2 linked regions of the Homo sapiens genome follow. The protein of the gene in region 2 interacts with the protein of the main gene of each other region in a pairwise test. Each region holds a gene or a part of one and is shown on either strand. Other genes may lie near its edges.

The links. Proteins that work in one complex are often made in the same cells at the same time.
Region 1: the proteins of SPMIP4 (region 2) and CLCNKA interact in binary tests that used the Homo sapiens proteins (3 or more experiments, as listed by UniProt).

What each region holds. Positions count from the first base shown.
Region 1 is NC_000001.11:16,031,025-16,035,661, forward strand, and holds the end of CLCNKA (chloride channel protein ClC-Ka), read left to right. Parts: intron 1-685; coding exon 686-819; intron 820-1,178; coding exon 1,179-1,267; intron 1,268-1,418; coding exon 1,419-1,502; intron 1,503-2,145; coding exon 2,146-2,232; intron 2,233-2,586; coding exon 2,587-2,634; 3' UTR 2,635-3,026; downstream 3,027-4,637. UniProt on the Homo sapiens protein: Anion-selective channel permeable to small monovalent anions with ion selectivity for chloride > bromide > nitrate > iodide. Forms a homodimeric channel where each subunit has its own ion conduction pathway.
Region 2 is NC_000007.14:25,168,975-25,178,096, reverse strand, and holds part of SPMIP4 (sperm-associated microtubule inner protein 4), read left to right. Parts: intron 1-465; exon of another isoform or gene 466-1,257; intron 1,258-2,199; exon of another isoform or gene 2,200-2,283; intron 2,284-9,122. UniProt on the Homo sapiens protein: Microtubule inner protein (MIP) part of the dynein-decorated doublet microtubules (DMTs) in flagellum axoneme. May serve to reinforce and thus stabilize the microtubule structure in the sperm flagella.

The DNA of each region.
Region 1 (4,637 bases), on a different chromosome or scaffold from region 2:
CCCTCTCCCCACTCCTGCTGTCCTTGCTGGGACTTTGGGAGCAGGAGGTGGAACGAGAATGGAAATGGGCTTTGAAGTCCTCACTCAACCAGATAGGACCAGAGCAGCTTCTGGCGCCAGAAAAGCAGACCAAAGAGGCTCTGAGAGTCCGAATCGGAGGCCCCGCTCCAAACACAAACAAGCTGCTGCCTTGCTCTGAACCTGTTTCCCCATCGGGAAAATGGGGCTGTTTATACCAGTGATTTTCAACCTTCCAAGTTTTTCCTTGGGGGTGACATACACTTTTATAATCAAATGGAATTATCCAGGGAAGGCTGCTGGGTCTGTACTCCAATCTCATTATTCATTAATGGATGGCCAGTCACTGACCACCTGGCAGATACTGGTTTTCCGTCATCTCACACTCAGCTCTGTCCAAGGTGGGACAAGACCCAAGTGAAGCTGGTCTGGGGGACATGGGGGACCAGGGGGTTGGGGATTTGGAACTGGGCCATCAGTAATGTGGTCCCCAGGTTTCCTCCCACTGTGGGTTCTAGGAGTCCCTCATTCCAGGAACCTCTCCAGCCCTGCTCACACTCCAGAGCCGTGGGTCCCTGGTTCAAGCAAAGCTCCCCTCAGATCCCCTTGCTGGCCTGGGTCTGACATCCCCGACTCCGGGACCTGATGGGAGCCCCTCTGCCTGCAGCTCCCACCATGTGAGGGTGGAGCACTTCATGAACCACAGCATCACCACACTGGCCAAGGACACGCCGCTGGAGGAGGTGGTCAAGGTTGTGACCTCCACAGACGTGACCGAGTATCCCCTGGTGGAGAGCACAGGTGCCCAGCTGGAAGGGAGGAGGAAGTCGGGGGTAGGGGATGCCCTCTGCCTCCTTCTTGAACCTGTCAGGCAGACAGGATCTGCATCCAGGCTCTGTGACTTAGCAACCAACCGTGTGACCTTGAGCAAGTCACTTCACCTGAGCCTCAGTTTCCTCATCAGCAAAATGGAAATCATGGCTACCCTCCCTTGGGGTGGTTGACATGTCTAAAGAGAGTCGGCTGGGTGCTTGTAAGGCAGTCCCTGGGCAGCTGCTGGGGTAGGAGCATGGGGACACCACCAAGGTCTTCCGGAAGCTTGGCCCTCAGGCCTGTTTCTTCATAATGCACCTCCCTCCCTCTCCCTCTCTACTTGCCAGAGTCCCAGATCCTGGTAGGCATCGTGCAGAGGGCCCAGCTGGTGCAGGCCCTCCAGGCTGAGCCTCCTTCCAGGGCTCCAGGACACCAGGTGGTTACTCCTGAGGGGCGTGGGGATGGGGCGGGGGTGGGTCAGCAGGGATGGGAGGGGAGGGACCCGCTGATCTCCTGAGGGAGAGGTGGTCTGAGAGAGGCATCCTGGGGAGGCCGGCCCTGCACCCATAACTCTTCCCCACTCCCAGCAGTGTCTCCAGGACATCTTGGCCAGGGGCTGCCCCACGGAACCAGTGACCCTGACGCTATTCTCAGAGACCACCTTGCACCAGGTAACAAGTATTGGGGAGTGTGACACACGCAGCCCCCGGGGCAGGGCAAGAGCTGATGAGGAGCTCAGGCTCCAGCCTCCCGTCCCAACCCCGCCCCGCCCATCTTATCCTGCTTCCTGCTCCTCCTGGGCCTGGACAGGGCAGCTCCTGCCGTCGCCCCTCACTGCCAGGGTTGCGGGGATGATGCAGAGAGATGAGGGAATTGGGGGGCTTGGCAAATGGAAGTCTCTGGGTGGAGAAAGACAGTGGAGTTGCACCAAGGCACACGTGCGTTTCAATTTCAGGTCCACCCCATTTTGCCTGTGTGATCTTGGACAAATTATGTAGCCAGTTGAGACAGAGCCTGACACAAGGATGGGGCAAGGGCGGAGGCTGACAGGGGACCTGGAGATGGCCCCGCCCCCTCTGTGCTGCTGGAGGGTGCTGGATGTTGGGTCCTGTCCACTTGCAGCCCCGCCCAGACCCTTGAGTGGCCTCTGGCATCCCCCAGTGGCCCACACTGGACATTGCAGGCCTGGGTCTGTTGCCTCCCACACATATCAGGCCCCGCCCCTCTTCCTGGCTCAGAGGCGTGGCAGAGTGGGCCAGAGGGTGGGCTGGGCGCCATCTACCCTCCAGTGTTTCCTAACAATCCCCCATCCAGGCACAAAACCTCTTTAAGCTGTTGAACCTTCAGTCCCTCTTCGTGACATCGCGGGGCAGAGCTGTGGGCTGCGTGTCCTGGGTGGAGGTACCAGGGTCCCGGGGGCAGAGCAAAGCAGGGGACCCATGCCTGAGAAGGCTGGGGAGATGGGGAGGTGGGGGGACACCAGCATGCTCCCATCCAAACCTGGGGGGATTCAGAGGATACTTATGAGTCCCTCTTTCTGGCCCAGATTGGCCACTGGGCCTGGCTCCCCTACCTTGTTTTCTGGCCAGTGGCCAGCCTGCCCTTCTCGGCCTCAGTGATCCCATCTGTGCAATGGGGTGGCACAGGCTCTACTATTCAGCCTGGAAATGAACCTTAGGGGACTAAAAATGCTGGAGCCCCCCTCACAACCTCCTCTACATCCCCCCCCACCTCCACCCCCTTTCTCTGTTCTAGATGAAGAAAGCAATTTCCAACCTGACAAATCCGCCAGCTCCAAAGTGAGCCGGCCCAGCAAGATGAAACAGGGCACCCCAGCTGACCTGGTACTGAGGTTGGGCTGAGACCCTGCTTCTCTTCCCCCATCACCACCTGCCCCTCCCTCCAGCCCAGCTCCATTCTTTGGCATAACAGGCAACTCTAACCTAGCCCAGAAGAGGATGGCTCATCCTGGGTGGGACGATGGCTCCTGCCTTGAAAGACAAAAATCCCACCTTGGGCAGAGCTGAGTGTGAGAAGATGGAAAACCAGTATCTGCCAGGTGCTCAGTGACTGGCCATCACATTAATGAATGACGAGATTGGAGTACACTGTCACCAAGGGCAGGCAAAGATGCCCTCTGGGGTTGTCTGGTTCCCAGTGAGAGGCTCCTGAGAAAAATAAAGCTGGTTCCCAGAGCTGCTGTCCATCCCTCATCTCAGCTGCAAGGTTGCTGGTCTGGGACTGGAGCTCCTTACCTGCGCTGGCCCAGAGTGAGTTTCCCGTGGTCACGTGGGCACTGCAGGCTCGGGCCCCTGGGCTCCTCCTCATGCTCCATTTCTTGGCAGGGAGATGATAGGGAGAGAGGTTCTCCCACCAGGTCTATGATGCTTGTCCTCATGAATAAGTGGGATACTGTGTCACTCAAACCCTAGTCTCCTGCTTGGCTGGGCCACAGCTCATAAAGCCAGGACCGAAGTGTGGCTCCTTCTGGAGTCCACAGAGCCCTGGGCATCCTCCATGAGCCTTCTATGCCTGGGTGGCCCAGGTTGACCGGCTGTGTATGTGTTGGGGTTAAGGATCCCCCCTGACTCCCTCCGGACTCTGTCCAGGGGCCCAAGGTCACATCTTCCCCAGCAGAGACCAGGCCAAGGTCATCCAGGGTGAATCCACCACTTTAATGTCCTCAAAGAAACTTGAGTGAGATGGGAGGGAGCTGCAAGGAGGGGGAGTGGGCTCCCAGGGGTGAGGAGCAGGGGACACGGAGGAAGCAGGTTCAGAGAGGGAGGGACAGACAGACAGACACTCCAGAGAGACAGATGTCCTGGGTGAAGAGAGCCGGGGAGCAGGTGCTTAGCTACCAGAAGTGGTCACCCCACCTTTGCTGGGGGGCAGATACACAGAGAGAGTGGGGAGGGACTGAACCCCAGGTAAAGGCAGGGTTCCCAGACCCCACTGTAAGTGGGTCTCAATTCTCTCCATGGCTGTCCTCCTGGGGGCCTGGCTGTTGCTCCTCTGGGCCAGGCTGCCCTGGTGTCTCTGAGAGTCCTTGAGTTCCCTGAGGGCAGACACCCTGCAGGGGAAGGTGCCCACCTGAGTGAAGTAATGAAGGGGGAGGGGGTTATGGCTCCCACTGCTGGGGCAGGTCCACCGAGGCACAGAGAGGCCACCATGAGCACTGGCCCCATCCCTGCCGCACCTACCCTGTGCCTACCCGAAGGGTCAAGAGATGCCCTCCCCTGGACCCCGGGGTCCAGATATGCCTGGGCTGCCCACCAGGCGAGGTCATGGTGAGAGCAGGTGCTGGACCAGCACAGCCCCCACCTCAGTTATAGAACACCTCGTCCTCCTCCCAGAGGGAGCCGCTGTCCATGGAGGGGAGGGAGCCCAGGGGGTGGGTTCCACCCTCGGGTCCTTGGGCCCCGGGCAGCCGCCGCCGATGCTGCAGCTCTGGGCTGGGGGGCTGCGGGATGCCAGCGGTGCTGGGGGGCTCCTCAGGTGAGGGACAGCTGTCAGGGGAGGGGCTGAGCGAGGAGAAGGCCTGAAGGCTGTCATCCTGTGAGGGGCCGCTGGGAAGGCTGTCCTGAAGGTAGATGCTCTCCAGATCTGGAAAAGCAAGGGGGTGATGGGGGAATGGCGTCCCGGATCCAGCTCCTCGCCCTCCCTCTCTGGGGGTGTGAGAAAGGGCAAGGGGCAGAAGACCTGCCTCCAAATCCAGCTGTGTGACTGCCGAGCCTTGTGACCTTGGTCAAGTCACCAAAACTCTCTGAGTCCCAGGTTCCTCCTCCAGGCAGTAAACGGAGGAGTTA
Region 2 (9,122 bases):
ATTCTAAAGCAAACTAACACGGGAACAGAAAACCAAATATCACCTATTCTGACTTATAAGTGGGAGCTAAACATTGAGTACACATGGAGACAAAGAAGGGAACCACAGACACCAAGGCCTACTTGAGGGTGGAGAGAGGGAGGAAGGTGAGGATCAGAAAACTACCTCTTGGGTACTATGCTTATCACCTGGGTGACAAAATAATTTGTACACTGAACCACTGCAACATGCAATTTACCTGTATAATGAACCTGCATATGTCCCCCTGAACCTAGAAAAAAAGTTTAAAAAAAAAAATTACAATGAAAATAATTGCACCTATCTAGTGATTACTGTGTGTCAGCACTCTACCAAATGCTTTGTATGTAGTAATTCTTTTAATCCTCATGACAACCCTATAAGTACTACTGTTATCTGCATTTTACATATGAAATAACAGATACACACAAGTAATTTGCCAAGATCTTAGTGTCAGCATTTCCTGTATTGTATTTACTTGAATCATTTTGAGAAAAGGAAAAGGAAAAAACACCTCAAAACACCTGGACAGTGAAAAAATAGCCTGAGTGGTTGTCTACTTGTTTTGTGTTTTTTGTTTTTTTGTTTTTTTTTTATTAGACGGAGTCTCACTCTGTTGCCAGGCTGGAGTGCAGTGGCACAATCTCGGCTTACTGCAACCTCCGCCTCCTGGGTTCAAGCAATTCTCCTGCCTCAGCCTCCTGAGTAGCTGGGACTACAGGCACACACCACCTCGCCCAGCTAATTCTTTTGTATTTTTAGTAGAAATGGGGTTTCACTATGTTGGCCAGGATGGTCTCGATCTCCTGACCTCGTGATCCATCCGCCTCAGCCTCCCAATCATTTAAGAATTCTCTAGGAAACCAGACGGGAAGTCACCCAGCCTCAGTTTAAACTCTTCCAAAAAGGATAGCACTTCCACACCAGGCAGTCCATTCCATTTTTGAATGCTCCTGATTGTTAGATCATTTTCTTTCTAATGTGAACAATTTTTCCCTTGTAATTTCTGCCTGCTGATTCTGGTTCTTCCCTCTGAAGCTATGCAGAATAGTCATTCATCATCCCATGCTAGCAGCCCTTCAAGATCTGAAGATTCTCTTGTCCCATGTGAGAATTCTGTTTGCCAGACTAAACACTGATTCTCACAGATTCAGCTCCTTTTTCTTCTTGCGCTTAGCCTTTCACCATCTCGATCAGACTTCCACAGATCTTCTCCGGTTTACAAACATGCTCTTTATACTAATAAAGAAAAAGAATGATTTTTCCGTAATTATAAAACTAACACACATTCCTCATAATGTAGAAATCATAGAAATTTGTAAGGAAAACAAATTCTTTATTTTTCCAACAGAAAAATTATGAAAATGAAGCACAGGAAAGAAGCCCTCTATATTTCCTTTATCCAGAGATAATAACCACTGTGTTAACATCTTAATATGTGTCCTCTCCAATTTTTTTAAATGTAAAGATCATATTCAACATTTTTTAAATCAATTGCTATTTTCACTTAATGAAAAGAAATATTCTTGTATTGGAGGAAAAGGAGCTCTTGTCACTTCTGGGTCAGTCCTTGCTGCCCCTACTCCTCTACCATTGACCTGATTCACAAGAGTGGTTTTCAGCCCTAAATTCCTGTTCAACTCCAAGGGTTATCACATTAGGCAGAGCTTCCCTTGAGTCAAATAAAACCCTTAGTGGATTGTGTGTGATCTGGGAATGGGCAGTTGTCCCTGGCTCAAAAACAGCAATGTGAGGTTTTATATTTGGCCTAAAGGAATCCAAGAATTTAGGGCTGCCATATCTGAATGCACCATCAAAAAGCACTGTCAAAGGCTTTTCACTGAAATGTTGATCCCCTCTACCTAAACGGTCCTATAGTTGGTTAGTGATCAGCTCCAAAACCCTTAACTGGCATGAAATTTAAGAGAAGCACGTTTTTTGTTAACTGACTATAAAATTCAACACGATATATGGCCAACTATAAACTACAAAAAGGTATTATTTGAAGCTCTATCTAGGTATAACCATGCTCCTGGCTCCTAATAACTACAACTTGCTTTCCCTTTTATTTCACGTGAATTCTTTCCTTTCACAATCACCAGATTAAGAAAACCAGGATGATCATGTGTTCTCAGAACCCCTCCTCTTAACCCCCTCTTAAAAAGCAGCCAGACAGCTTACAAAAGAGTGTCTTTCCTCTCAGTGTTAGTGATGGAACGGCTCTGGACGGTGATAACAGGATACTGGTGGTAACTCTGTTCTATCATTGCTGAGCCTCACTTCTTCAGACCAAGTGCAGGGTCCGTGGCTCCCAATTTGAATCACAAGGTATCTCAACAGCAAAATAAAACAATACAAAACAGAAAGCCCCTGGTTTTTCAGGATTACCTTCATAATGGTAAGGGTGAACGTGAGCCCTAGCATACGTTTGCACTCAGCAGCTTAATTTTCTAAACACAGATGTACTTAAAGGGACACCCTTTTTCAATATCATGATGTATCCAGGTACAACTTAGATCATGTAGGCCATACCTACAACCTAGATGCAGCCATCATGGCACTCACTTGGCAGTTTTAACAGTGACGCAAAACGATTTCCTCACATCAGCCTACTTTTTTTTTCTTTTCACAATAGGTGAGGTGAATACAAAAATTAGCCAGGTGTGGTGGCTCACACCTGTAGGTCCCAGCTACTTGGGAGGCTGAGGTGGGAGGATCACTTGAGCCTAGAGGCAGAGGTTGTAGTATGCCAAGATCACACCACAGCACTCCAGACTGGGCAACAGAGCGAGACTCTTTCTCAAAAATCAAAACAAAATAAAACAATACAAAAATAGGTGACACGGCCTAGCTCCCCTGTTACCCAGGACTGGTCTACAGACAGGGTACTTCAAAATCACCTGAGGAGCTTTCTAGAAAAACAGATTCCCAGGCTGCCTCTATATATGGACATTCTGACTCCCCAGGTCTGAGGGGGTGCAAGGGAATCTGCATTTTTTAGTTTTTCAGCTTACATTGAGAACTACTGGGCTAGCAGCACTGAAAATATAAGAAAACCAGGACTATGGATCTGGCTTACCTGATGACCAAGAGCAAGTTAGTTGCTACACTTTAATTACTTTACTCAAGTGGATTTTTTGGGACAATTATGCTAGCCACTATTTTATATAAACTTGCTTGATCTCCATTAAAAATATTAAGTATATAAACAGGTGGTAATTTTTTCTCATTTCTTCTGTTGAAAATTTAACTGGCAGGAACAGCTACTCAAAATCATCAAGATTCCTATCCTCTTTTTCATTCAGCTGACTTCTCCTTAACTTCTAGCAAGTTCTCTCAGCTCACAGGGCAAACAAACATATCCATTAAGGAAGTGCCTTGAGAATTGCTTAGGATTTCATTATATAATAGGATTTCATTATAGAATTTCATTATCAGTTCCCATTTTGTTTCTGGATTCACTTTGCTGTTGTCCGACTCTTAAAACATTTTTTTAAATAATAGTTATCTGCCAACTAAAAATGCGGGTCATGTTTATCTCGAGCTTTTCTCTAGTCACGCCTCCTAGTAGTTACTGGCTAAATTACTGAATTTGGGGTTTGATGCATAAAATCTTGTACAGTGACTTTAAAATGAAATACTGGCTCATCTATAGGGAATGTGTCCTTTTCAAAAACAAGTAAACAATTTTCTATCGCTAGAGATGGTAGCACCAATAATTTGATAATTATTCTCTTTGTTATAGAGATGTATTTTATTTACATTGAGAACTACTGGGCTAGCAGAAAGGGAGAGAGAGGGAGAGAGACATGGAGAGAGAGTGAGAGAGACAGTGAGAGAGAGGGGGAGGAAAAGAGGGAGAGAGAGAAAGGGAGACGGAGAGAGAGGGGGAAAGAGAAAGGTTTAAAATTTCATTAAAATTATTAAAACATAGCCCTCATTTGGAGTTGGCAGATAACTATCATTTTTTAAAAATGTTTAAGAATCAGAAAGCAATGAAGTGAATCCAGAAACAAATGGGAGCCTATAATGAAATCCTATCATGAAATCCTAAATTATTACATCCTAAAATGTCAATTTTTATTTTAATTTGGTTCCTTCTCTACAATTCTGTGAGTATTAAGGCTAAGGGGAGGGAGACATGATACCTTAAAGTAAGAGGGAAATATGACTTATTTATGCATTGTCTTTTATTTTAAATGATTTCCTGCAACTTTCCAGCTTTAGGTGGATGCCAGCCCAAATGATTGATTAGCATTTTCTACCGGCTCATCTTCTGGGGACGATGTAATATACGGGGGTCAGATGTTGAGAAATTGACTCATTTAGGTTTTGAATGTAACTTTTACAAACTTAGATATTAAAGCTTAGGTTGTCATTAATCAAATGCATTTAAATATTTTTCACTTGTCATGTCCCCCAAATCGTGTCTGTTGATCGTTGTCAGACAGCTAGGGAGGACGTAGAGGTCTGAGAGCTGAATGCCAGCATCCCTTCTGCAGCACCCCAAATCAGTGGGCCCAGGACTCTCCTTGCCTAGCCAGTGCGGGGTTAGCAAACTTTTTTTCTGTAAAGAGCCAGATGGTAAATATTGTAGGCTTTACGGTCTCTGTCCAACTATTCAACTCTGCCATTGTGGGGCAAAAGCAGCCATAGACCGTATGTATATAGTCCATAAATGAATGGTCATGGCTGTATTCCAATAGACTTTTGTTTACAAAAACGGGCAGGGAGTTGGATTTGGCCCATGGGCCATGCTTTGCCAACTCTCAATCTAGTGACTTCACAAGATAATACATTCCACTTATAGTCCTGAGTGTTGCTTCTTCATTCTATTCAACAATTATTACAGGTGGGGGAGGAGGGGTTATGTTAAGCCAAGCACTGTACTGGTAAAGAGAAAAAAGTAGCTCCACAGTCCATACCTCTTTCTCTTTCCCTCTCTCTCTCTTCCTGTCTCTCCCCTTCTCTCTCCCTATCTACCTACCTATCTCCCCTTCTCTTTCCCATTCTCTCCCCCTCTCTCTCCCTCCCTTTTTCTCCCACTTTCTTCCCCCTTCCTTCTCTCGCCCTCCTCCCCCAACCCTTCACCCCACCACCCCCTTCCTCTCCTCCATGTTTCTGACTGGATCCTACTGTTCTCAGGGTATAGTCCAGAGGATTTAGAAGGCCCCACAGGATACTGTCCTTGTTTTCCTCTCATGCTCCACCTCTCACCATGGCCCTTGTCTACATGCCCCAAGTTCTAGAATTCTATATCAACTCTTCTAATATAGTTCAAAATTCAACTCTATTTTCTCAGCCCCTAAGATCTGGGTAAGTTCTACTGAGATCTCAGATCTTTACTCCATGCCTTGTGGAATTCCTCCAAATTTATCCAAGTTCCCAGGACAAGGATAGGGATAGCATTTGAAAGTCTCATGGTCACTTCTGACTTTGGGTTCCTGGTTCCACTTAAAACAACACACTGACCCAGATGTGAAACTCAGTCATCCCTCATTTTTCTCTAAGGACCTTGTCCATGCAGAGCATTTGTGAGCCTGGTAAACTTCACTGAACTGTTGGGGATCAGGAAGGAGAGTCACACCATGCCATGCTACATGTAACCAAAACACCTTGTTAGCCATAACTTCCACATTCTTAAAAGGTCTTTAACCAGCTGTCGCCAAGGGTTTCTCCCTGGGTTTTCAACCAGTGCAGTCCCCAGTAGCCTCACCATCCTGCTGGCTCCTCTCATCTCCCTCTTCCCTTACTCCCCTTTCCTCTCCTCTCCCTCTTTCAAGAGCAAACAAACAAGTTTCTCCCACTGCAGAGCAGTTTAATCAGTCTGAGCTTGCTTGAGCTCCTACCACCACCCATACTTTCAGAGTCTCTGTGTCTGCAAGGGGCTTAACAGAATATTTTACCAAACAAAAGTAATTCTTCCCTAAGAGAGATTCTACACTGAAGTCAACACTGTCAGGAATTTTCCAGTCTATTAAACTCTAGGCCTTTTTACCTGCTATTCCCTTGCATGCCACAGTATTTCTTCTGTTTCCTCTAGATAACTCCTACTCATCCTTTAGAACACATCTTGTGATTTCCCGCAAGAATCCTTCCTACTGAAAGGATTCCTGTTTGTCCTGCAAAGTGCCTTATAGGTATATACCATAATACCAATCCAGGACCACTTAAATCCAAGCTTAAGTTTAGGGTAGATGCAAACTGGGGCCACAGGGGAACTGGTTAACTTCTGACTCACCTTGAACATGAGAGGGTAAGCATTTTAAGGTCCCAGCTTCTTGTGTAGATGGTCTCCTTTAGTTTCCTCACTTGGCTGATTTCCATATCCCTCACCTTAAAACAAAAATGTAAATTTGCCAGGATCAGCCCTGCCCTAAGGGCAGAAGTGGCTTCCCTGCTTGCTTACTTCACTGGGTTCCTATTTACCCTCTATGTAGCACTTATCCCTTTCTGTCTTGTCAAAAAGCTAGTTGTTTTTAAGATTTTTTTTTCTCCTCCCAGTATTTTTAGTTGTTTTCAGTGGGAAGTTTGGTCCAAATAACCTAGGCCGCCATTACTGGAAACTGAAAGTCATTAAATCCTTCCTAATTAGGAAGCAGAACTTTTGCCAGATGCATTTGCAGGTGTTTTTGTAAGGCTGTGTTCCTAACCAGAAGATTTGATTCCTCTATCACAGAAAGCAGTATAGGAAACAAATCCATCTCTTTGGCCTTACTCATTTATTCAATAGTATTATTTGAGTGCTTCCTGTGTGCCAGGCACTGGGGTAAAGGTTACAACAGTGAGCCAGTAGAATCCCTGCCCTTCACTCCTTTGTTAAGAAAAAGCAGAGTAAATCATCTGAGCTACCAGTTTCAAGATTAGATAAGCCCTACCAACCAATTTAGGAAACCGCCAGTCCACTGCATAGTACTGTTGTAAGGGGTGGGACTTGGAGACATGATTAACTTACAAGGTAACAATTGAATAGAATAGTGCTTCTAAAACTTTAGCATGCACAAGAATCACCTGGAGGGCTTCTTAAAACATTACTGCACCCCATCCCCAGAGATTCTGATTCTTAGGTTTTGAGATGGATCCTGAGCATTTGCATTTCTAAGAAGCTCTAAGGAGATGCTTATGCAACTAGTCTAGGGACCACTCTTTGAGAACCATTGTTATAGTAGCCCTAGATAAAACTTATGGGTAAGTAGCTCCTTTACAAGATTAGGAATATTCCTTTACAATACTCTCCATTTCTGAAAATCCAAAGATAATCTTTAGCCAAGACCATTTAATGAGGAAGAAGGATTTTCAACAAATAGAGCTAGAACAACTGGATATCCACATGCAAAAGAATAGATGCATGAGATCCCTTATCTCATATTGTATCCAAAATTAACTTATCCTGAATCAAAGACCTAAGCGTAAGGGCTAAACTGTAAGATACTTAGAAGAAAACATAGCGATAAATCTTTATGGCCTTGGATTTGTAACTGTGTTCTTAGATATGACTCCAAAAGCACAAGCAATAAAAGGAAAAACAGATCAAGTGAACTTCGTCAAAATTAAAAAACTTTTTTGCTTCAAGGGACACTATCAAGTAAGTAAAAAGTAATTGCACAGAACAGGAGAAAATATCTGCCTATTATCCCTGACAAGGGACTTATATGTAGGATATATAAAGAACTCTTGTAACGCAAAAATAAGACAAATAACAAAAAATGCAAAGGATCTGAATAGATATTTCTCCAATAAAGATATTGCCAATAGGTACATGGAAAAAAATGCTCAACATCATTAGTCATTGGGGAAATGCAAATCAAAACTACAATTAGATACCACTTCACATCCACTAGAATGGCAATAATTTTTTTAAATTTTAACAGAAAATAGCAAGTGTTGGCAAAGATGTGGAGATACTGGAATCCTCATACAATGTTGGTAGGAATGTAAAATGGAGCAGCTACTGTAGAAAACAGTTTGGCAGTTCCTCAACAAGTTAAACAGAATCACCATATGACCCACTTCTAATTTAATTCCCCAAAGAATTAAAAACAGGTATTCAAACCAAAACTTGAACATGAATATTCATAGCAGTATTATTCACGAGAGTTAAAAGGTGAAAATAACCCAAATGTCCATCAACTGATGAATGGTGAAACAAAACGTGATATATCTATACAGTGGAATATTACGTAGCCATTAAAAGGAATGAAGGGCTGGGCACAGTGACTCACGCCTGTAATCCTAACACTTTGGGAGGCCAAGGTAGGGGGGATCACCTGAGGTCAGGAGTTCAAAACCAACCTGGCCAACATGGCGAAACCATGTCTCTACTGAAAATACAAAAAATTAGCCAGGCGTGGTGGTGGGCACCTGTAATCCCAGCTACTCGGGAGGCTGAGACAGGAGAATCACTTGAACCCTGAGGTGAGGTAGAGGCTGCAGTGAGCCAAGATCACGCCATTGCACTCCAGCCTGGGCAACAAGAGCGAAACTCCATCTCAAAAAAACAAATAAATAAATAAATGGAATGGAGTATGGACACATACTACAAAATGGATGAACCTTGAAAACTTTATGCCAAGTCAAAGAAGCCCATCACAAAAGGCCACGTGTTACATTATTCTACTTACAGGAAATGTCCAGAATAGGCAAATCTACAGAAAGTAGATTAGTATAATAGTTGCCGAGGGAAAGAGTGAGGGTGGGGAGTATAGGGGATGATGGCTTAGCAATACAGGGTATTCTTGAGATGATGAAAATGCTGTAAAGTTGACTGTGGGGATGCTCGCACTTATCTGTGAATAAACTTTAAAGCCATTGAATTATACACTTTATTTTTTAATTAATTATAAATTTATAAAATAGAGACAGGGTCTTGCTATGTTGCCCAGGCTGGTCTTGAACTCCTGAGCTCAAGCAGTCCTCCTGCCTTGGCCTCCCAAAGTGCTGGGATTACAGGCATGAGCCACTGCACCTGGCCTGAATTGTACACTTTAAATCGATGAATTGTGTGGCAAGTGAATTAAATCTCAATAAACCTGTTTTTAAAAATAAACACATGGGCAGATGCAGTGGCTCACACCTGTAATCTCAAGCACTTTGGGAGGCCGAGG